Homo sapiens: one gene and its partner. The protein of the gene in region 1 purifies or fractionates together with the protein of each later gene. This does not show direct contact. Each region holds a gene or a part of one and is shown on either strand. Other genes may lie near its edges. The genes, in order: TBC1D8 and JPH1.

Region 1 (4,221 bases):
TCCTGTTAGGAAGCCTACGGCTCTTTTCTGCCTCATTTTCCTACCTGTGAGTTCTCCAGGGCAGACAAGTCTCCCAGTTCATCTCTGCGATTCCCGGGCCTGGCAGTGTGTCTGCGCGGGAGGTGCCAGTGAATGTCTCTGGAAGGAATGTTTTCTTACCGTCCCCGACTGTTCTATATGCCCTGGTGCACCCTAATGGTCCCGATTACCATTGACTTCCTTCCTCAGTTTCATTCAGAGGCTGTTAGTGGCTGCCAGTCCTGGACCATGCTCTCCCGGCCTCTGGGTGGGCGTTCCTGTCCCCCGCCCACACGGTTCTTGTCCGCCAGGTCTGGTCAGGGTTTCTGAGCTGTTCCCTTCTGGAGGCGCTTCCCTGAGTTCCCAGGCGTCCTGGGGGGTCGGGATTGACTTTACTTCCACTTTTCAGTTCTGTCCTAGTTATCAGTCACGTTTTGTCAGGGATTCCTTTGTTAAAACCCCAGGGATGTTTTCATGGGGTTGTTCTTTTCTTCTTTTGCTAGGTAGGGTGTTAAATGTAACTGCCTCCCTGTGGAGATCCTTGGAGGTCCTCCAGCCTGCTCCAGGCCAGCCACCTTGTCTCTGCTTCCACAACATCCTTGAGGAAATACGCATTTAAAACCCGACCTCTACATTCCCTGTAGTTTCTCTTCACATCGCCTACTCCATATTTTCCAGCTTTTCAATTTCTCTCAGAACAAAGGTTTTATTTCTGGGCAGGGCACTGACGGCGGTGACACTAATATCGGTACCTCCGGGCCACTTGAGGGACGTCCAGACCTGAGTCTGGTCTGATGCTTTCTTTAGGATCCCAAACATCGCTGCCGCCTCCGCAGCGCCGTCGGATCCCTGGGGAGAGCATCCAAAATGTGAACCAAGTATTAAAAACATTGGAATATAACTGTTTTTAATTCTTATGCTGTTTTTTGGTTATTTGTAATTTTTGTTGTTGTTGCTATTTTAAACCCAGCGCACTTAGGTTTTCTGGCGTGCATTCTGCCCCCCGCCCCCTCGGTGCGGAAAAATGCCCTCGGTGGGGCAACCTGCAGCTGCGAGAAGAAGGCTTTTTCCCTGTCCCTCCTCCACGTCTCAGGTCGAGGTCAGGGACGGCAGCTCTCCCGAGTTCCCCCTGAGAGCGCGGAGAGGCGGGAGGGAGGGAGCCTGGCGCAGGATTGGACTTCCTCCCTCCACTCCGGAACTGCGCGCCGGAGCGCCTTGGACGCGGAAACCCGGGAGGCGCCGCGGGAGCCGCGGGGTAGGGGCGGTCGGGGGCGGGGCCGGCGGCTGGAGAGGGGCCAGGGGCGGGTGCGGGGCGGGGCCAGGGGCGGGTGCGGGGCGGGGCCACGTGAGGGCCGCGCTGGGTGCGCGGGGCTAGCTGCGCCTGCTGCGCTCCGCGGGCTCTCAGAGCGCTGGGCACCGGCCGGGCTGTGGTCCCCGCGCGCCGCCGTCGCCTCTCGAGCGGGCTCGGCTCACAGCGACCGGCGGCCGGGGAGATGTGAGCTGGGGCCGGCGGGCGCGGCCGGACCGCCGCGATGTGGCTCAAGCCCGAGGAGGTGCTGCTGAAGAACGCGCTGAAGCTCTGGGTGACCCAGAAGAGCAGCTGCTACTTCATCCTGCAGCGGCGCCGCGGGCACGGCGAGGGGGGCGGCCGCCTCACCGGTAAGGGGCTCGCCGGGGCGGGCGCGGCGGCCGGGCCCGGGGCCTCGCACCCCGCCGGGCCCGCGGCCCCCAGTCCCGGGCTGCGTCGCCAGAGGCGATTTCTTGGGAGACGCGGGGCCCGGACGGCCCTGCCGCGGGCTTGTTTTCCTTTTTTCTGCGTTTCTCCCGCGGGCTCCCGTCGAGGTGGTGGTAGAGGGGGCTCCCGGGCGCGTGCGTTTTCCGGGCGAGGCAGGTGTCTTCGCCGCCTGGCCCGGTGAGCTGGAGGCCGGACTCGACTTGGGAATCGAAGGAGAAACGCCGGGTGGAGCGGGGCCGGAGGGCTCGGGGCCGCCCTGGAGCAGCGAGGCTGCTGTGTGGGGCCAGGTGACAGCGGGGTGCGCCGAGCCAGCCCGGACTCGGCCATCTGGAGGCGCCGGAGGCTCCAGGTGGTGTCGTGGCTGGGGGCGCGCGGCGATGCGCGCGGGGCGCAGCTCTTGGAGGCCGCGGTGAGCGGGAACTGTCTCCACGCCCGGAGGGGAAACTGAGGGTGGGCGAATCCCAAGCTCGTGATCTCAGTAGAGAAATTGAACAGATCAGTTTTTTCCTCTCTTTCAGTGTCTTACAAGGAATGATAGGAAAAAAAACCCAGGCTCGTAAAGTTGATGATAAAACAAAGCATTTTTTTTCTAAAAGTTTTGTTCCAAAGCTCTTTGAAATTGACGCCAACTTGCAGTAGCTAGGACACCTGTTTAAAGGTCAGTGAAGGAACAATTAGACTTTTTCATTTGTATCTAGGGGGCCTATATTTTTCTTTCCAATTTTGGAATCGGAATAAAAGAGAGCTTAGATCTCCTGTCTTGTTCCTGTTCTACTGAGGAGAAGACAGAGGCCAGAGAGAGGTCAAAGGACCTAGGTTAGGTCCCCGGGTTAGTGGTTGGCGGCTCTTTCTGCTCTCAGACCAGTCTAGGGAAGGCCTTTTTGAGGTTGAGTCTGGTAGGAGATGTACTAACACGCCTGGAAACCGCAGAACCAAGTGCAAAGGAACTGGATTTTGCTGGACTTTAGCTTCTGAGAAAGCTGGCGGTTGGGTTTGTTAGAGGAGTGCAGACTTACACTGAGACCGGGTGAGTGGGTGGGAGTTGGCAGGTTGCTGCATGGAGGGAGCTGTAGGCAGCTGAGGGTTCCCCATGGAAGGGGCAGAGTGTAGTTAGGATTCTGGACGGAGGCGGTGCTTTGGTAACCAGTGGTCCTGTTGAGTGGCAACAAGGACTCAACTTGGGCAACTTGGGCAGCACGTGGGCCTGCTCCAGGAGCTGTTTTGAGCTTTGGGGGAGGGAGTTGTGCAGGAGGCAGGGGCCACAGTGGCCTTGTTGGGCCCCGTGACGCACCCTGGTGCTTAGTGCCCAGGCTCTCAGGAAATGGAGGTGGGTGGTGCCCTGGGAAGAGGCGAAGAGGCAGGAATTTGTCGTCCCTCCCTTTCTTTGAGGGCAGTGTATCTTTATTTATGGTGCATTTAGCAGGGTTCCTGGTCTATAAATGTTTCATTTAGTAGAGAGTGAGGACAAGGCCTGAAGATTTGTGAAGTGAGAAACATAAGGACAGTTTGTCCCGTAAACGCTCATTCATTCACTGAGTTCCGTGCACATATGTAGGATACTCTGCTCGCTGCTCTGGAAAGAGGCCCGAGAGCAGGCGGTGAGGGCCGGCTACCTTCAGCCGATTCACCATCTAGTTAGTGGGTGAGATGGTTCCAGACACGGAGGGCAGAGCTGGCCATAGGATGCCTGGCTTCAAGCCCGCTTCCTGTCCAGAGGGTTTCTGACTCTGTTGTCCAGAGTCTCTGTGATGAACTCAGTGAATTCCCTCCCTGTTTCATTCCAAAATCAAGCAGGTCCCATATTATTATTATACCTGTGGCTCTGGCATTCCTTGATATTTACTTCGGTTTGGACTTACTGTGAATGTGCAGAATTTTCTTATGCTTAAATGCAACAAGATCGACCATAAAGAGGGAAAAGTCTACAAAAAGAGGACACTTGATGTATTTCTTGGAGACCCTGTTGATTTTGAAAAGGATGACATGTGCAGCCAGACACTTTACCTTTGAGCATTTAGCTGGGAAGCCAATGCCGATGAAGCAGCGCTGACCTGCCACGTGTGCTGTGGGGGGCTGGTCTTCATGGGACCACTTAGGATTGTGGTAAAGTCAAGACCCATGGGACACAGGGCAGCTCTGTGGTGGTGGCGGTTTTTGGAAAATGTGCAATTCTAATGTGGCAGATTGTTAGCAATTTAAGAGTTTAAAACCTAGATTGAGTTTATGAAAAGAATGAGGGCTACAGTGATACACATTCTGGCAGGTTGTAGACTTTTGTTTGGAGGGAAGCAAGCAGTGGTGGCCTAAGGGGGATTGGAAGTAAAATGTAAGAGAGCAGTAATCAATAAACATCTCTTTTCCTTTATTGTGATGCTGAATTTGTATTAGTAGGAGTTTAGACAGAGGAGATCTGGTGGTTGAAGTAATCTTAATTGCCTAACTTCAGAAATACTATCAGCTTTTGTTTC
Region 2 (4,020 bases), on another chromosome or scaffold:
ACACTTTTTTCTCAGCCATTCCTGTGATTTGCATCCAAGTTTGTTTTGAGGTTCATCTAATCTTTCTTTTGAATTTGTGTAAAATTTAAAGCGTCCCCATCAAATTGGGTTTGAACCTCACCCCCGAAAGAGGTAAATATATATAATTAAACTTTGCTGTTAATACTTAATTAAACTTTGTTCTTCTCTTGTGTTTCTAGCTAGAGAAGCTTTAGATTTCACATAAACCATAGTAACTCTTCTAGCAGAAAATTCCTTACAGTTTTAAATATGAGTGACAATCTCTTAAAGGAAAAAAAGATAATTTTTTGAGTTAGGATTTCTTTCTGTATTTTGATTTCCTGTTTTTTATTTTCTTACCACCTGGAAAATTTCTTCCAATCAAGACTTACCCTGTGCCCTGCTACAGCTTCTTGTATTACACCTGTCCCAGTCAGTCTTGAAAAGCAAGACAGATTTTTTTTTCATTTTGCTATTTTAAGCTACAACTGGCCACCACAGTCGTATTTATGAGACTTTACCTTAAAGCTTTTCACCCCATATCCTGTGCCTAGGTATATAAAGAACACAGAGGCCAGGGCTTGGTATCTGCCACTGAACAGAGCATCCCGGATTTTTATTTTTCCCCTGGTTGCTGTTTGAAGCTTTCATGTCTAGTTTTCCCTCATCTTCACTGAGTCACCTTTAAAAATAGCTTTCTAAGTGGAGCCACCCTGGTAGGATAAATATATATGTGTGTGTATATTAGAACATATACAGGAGAAATATGTGTGTGTGTGTATGCGTGCAAAAGAAAAAAATATATATGTATGTATTTTTCATTTTGGATAAAGCACTCATTCACTATTCATTGAATCTGGATTGCCAGTACAGTGATATGTGGGCTAAAAACTAGAGAAAAGATAGTAATCTAAATTCAAACCAAAAGAATATACAAATTCAAAATACTCACTAATTCAAAGGGGTTAGATAAATTCACAGAATCTTATATGGATTTATGAAATGGGAGTTAAGGTTCAGGCACACCTTGGACTTTAGAAGTTGGCTTCATGGAAGGCACGTTCTCTGCTATTTCACTTTCCTGGGTCCACTGTAAGACACCAAAGTCTATGTTGTATTGTTCTGACCAGGTGTATTTTTCCTCACCTTTCATATCACTAAATTACCTTTGAAAATTATAAAATAAACCCAGTAGCCCAGAATAGTTGAAATGATCCAAAATTCTTAAAACACTCATGAACAAAATCTAATCTAAGTGTGTAGTAGTACAGGTGGAACATCCAGAATGCTCCAACATCTGGTCATGATGTGAAGTGAAAGAAGCCAGGCACAGAAAGACAAACTTTGCATGTTCTCATTTATTTGTGGGAGCTAAAAATTAAAGCGATCACACTCATGGAGATGGAGAGTAGAAGGATGGTTACCAGAGGCTGGATGGAAAGTGAAGACGTAGGGGAGAAGAGGGGATGTTTAATGGATACAAAAAAAAAAATAGAACAAATAAGATCTAGTATTTGATAGCACAACAGGGTGACTGTAGTTAATAATAATTTAATTGTACCTTTTAAAATAACTAAAAGAGAACTGGGCACGGTAGCCCACACCTGTAATCCCAACACTTTGGGAGGCTGAGGCGGATGGATCACTTGAGGTCAGGAGTTCAGGACCAGCCTGGCCAACATGGTGAAACCCCGTCTCTACCAAAAATATAAAAGTTAGCTGGGCATCGTAGTGAACACCTGTAGTCCCAGCTACTCGGGAGGCTGAGGCAGGAGAATCACTTGAAGCCAGGAGGCAGAGGTTACGGTGAGCCAAGATCGCGCCACTGCACTCCAGCCTGGGTGACAGAGCAAGACTCCACCTCAAAAAATAAAATAACTAAAAGAGTATAATTGGATTGTTTGGAACACAAAGAATAAATGCTTTAGGTGTTGGATACCTCATTACCCTGATGTGATTATTACACATTCTATGCTGGTATCAAAATATCACATATATACCATGTTACCCACAAAAATTAAAAATTTTTTAAATCTCCAGAATCTGAAACTTTTAGAGCACCAACATGATGCTCAAAGGAAATTCTCATTGCAGCATTTTAGAATTTTGTATTCGGGATGCTCAACCTGTACATCAGAAGAAAATCTGAAACCCCAAACACTTAGGGTCCCAAGTGTTTCAGATAAGGGATGCTTAGCCTGTAATAATATTTCCTTAATCTCTGTGCTCAGTTGTGACATTGAAAGATCGTCTCCACTATTTTCTGAGTTATAAGAGTTTTCTGCATTATTTCTATGCTCTAAATTAACCATAATTGAGGAGTTGCACAGGTTAGGACTCTCCTATCAATTTAGAATTACAACTATTCTAAAAGAGCAGTTGGTCGTTATCACAATTTGATGTTTTTCTGATACTGTGGAAATTATAGGATATAGAGGAAAATGTCATTTTAAAGGACTGAATGGGAAATTGCCTTTAAACTAAGGCCTGTATCTTTAATAGACATATAGAGAAAAGAGCATGGAGCTCTGAAGTGACCAGACTAAAGCTTAATTCGAGTTCCAATTTGTTCAAACTGGCTGAGGAAACTTGAGCAAGACACCTGTCCTCTTAAGCTCTGTAAAATGGAACTAATAATCACTTGTGAAGAATAAACAAAAAAAAAAATCTCAGAGATGTTTAACCCACTGCCCAGCATTATAAAAACCTGCAAAAAATGTTTATTTTCCTCCCATTTACTTGGGGTTTAGGAACTGATGCTTTTCTTCTGCCTAATAGTCCCCACTTAAAGGGGACTCATGTTTACTTCCTCTCCCTCCCCCATTTTACTCATCACCCTGTTTGTTCTTCATTTAATTCAGTGATTTAATCCATTTCGTTTAACAACCCACATTTGGGTCAGGCACTGTGGTACACGCCTGGAATCCCAGCACTTTGGGAGGCCAAGGTGGCAGGATCGCTTAAGGCCAGGAAGTTGAGACCAGCCTGGGCAACATAGTGAGACCTCATCTCTACAAAAAATACAAAAATTAACCAGGTTTGATAGCACGCACTGTTGGTCTCAGCTACTCAGGAAGCTGAAGTGGTAGGATAGCTTGAACCTGGGAGGTCAAGGCTGCGATGAGCTGAGATCACACCACTGCATTCCAGTCTGGGTGACAGAGCAAGAGCCTGTCTCAAAACAAAACAACCCACATCCACGGCACTTGGAAATGTGCTGGAAGATAGTAGAGTCTCATTAAATATTGGTTGCCTGAATGAATTGGGCAATGTCACGTGTCTGTGCACTGGGTACATAGCAGTGAATAAGACAAGGCCCCTGCCACTGTGGAGCTCAGAGTCTTGTGGGGGAAAATAGCAGTTAAACAACAAAGGATAATCAAGTGTGAAACGCCTTGTGATAGAGAAAGAGCAGGGCACTCTGACCTCTACCACGGAGATGTGGGCTCAGTCAGGGAAAGAGACCTTCTTGAGTCAATGATGTGTGACCCAAACCCTAGACCCGAATTGATTAGTGTTTGACCAATGACAGCTCCAATCTCCATTATTCACTTACCCCACACCCAAAAAACATCAATACTTTTGAGGCCTCTGTAACATTGTTTCAGTGTAGTCTTACCCAGTATCCAAATGGAGTACCACTGTTTCCTCTTCTGTAAAATGAGGACAATAAAACTACCTACCTCATAAAGCCAGTTTAGAATACTTTTAATGCTATATAAGAATTAGACATTATTTTAACAGTAAATACCACAATCATGTCTTTGTAATAAAGGTGGCTTCTTCATGGAGCAGATCTGAAAAGATGGGTTATATGAGGTTGGTTTGTTTAAACAAGTAAAAATTTGGGGCCCTTGGACAACTATCTGGTATTTATTATAATGATATTTATCAAAATAGGATCCCATAGTTTGTAAAATATAACTTCATTTCTGAAATGTTGTGGTTGTGATTAGAGAAATTTGAAAAGCTGGGCCTGTAAGATAACTTCTGAAAGTATCCAACTTCTCACTTACAGCT

The links.
Region 2: the proteins of TBC1D8 (region 1) and JPH1 purify together in Homo sapiens (affinity purification with mass spectrometry; one large-scale study listed by BioGRID and IntAct). This does not show direct contact.

Annotation. Positions count from the first base shown.
Region 1 is NC_000002.12:101,148,583-101,152,803, reverse strand, and holds the start of TBC1D8 (TBC1 domain family member 8), read left to right. Parts: upstream 1-1,421; 5' UTR 1,422-1,550; coding exon 1,551-1,677; intron 1,678-4,221. UniProt on the Homo sapiens protein: May act as a GTPase-activating protein for Rab family protein(s).
Region 2 is NC_000008.11:74,237,834-74,241,853, reverse strand, and holds part of JPH1 (junctophilin-1), read left to right. Parts: intron 1-4,020. UniProt on the Homo sapiens protein: Junctophilins contribute to the formation of junctional membrane complexes (JMCs) which link the plasma membrane with the endoplasmic or sarcoplasmic reticulum in excitable cells.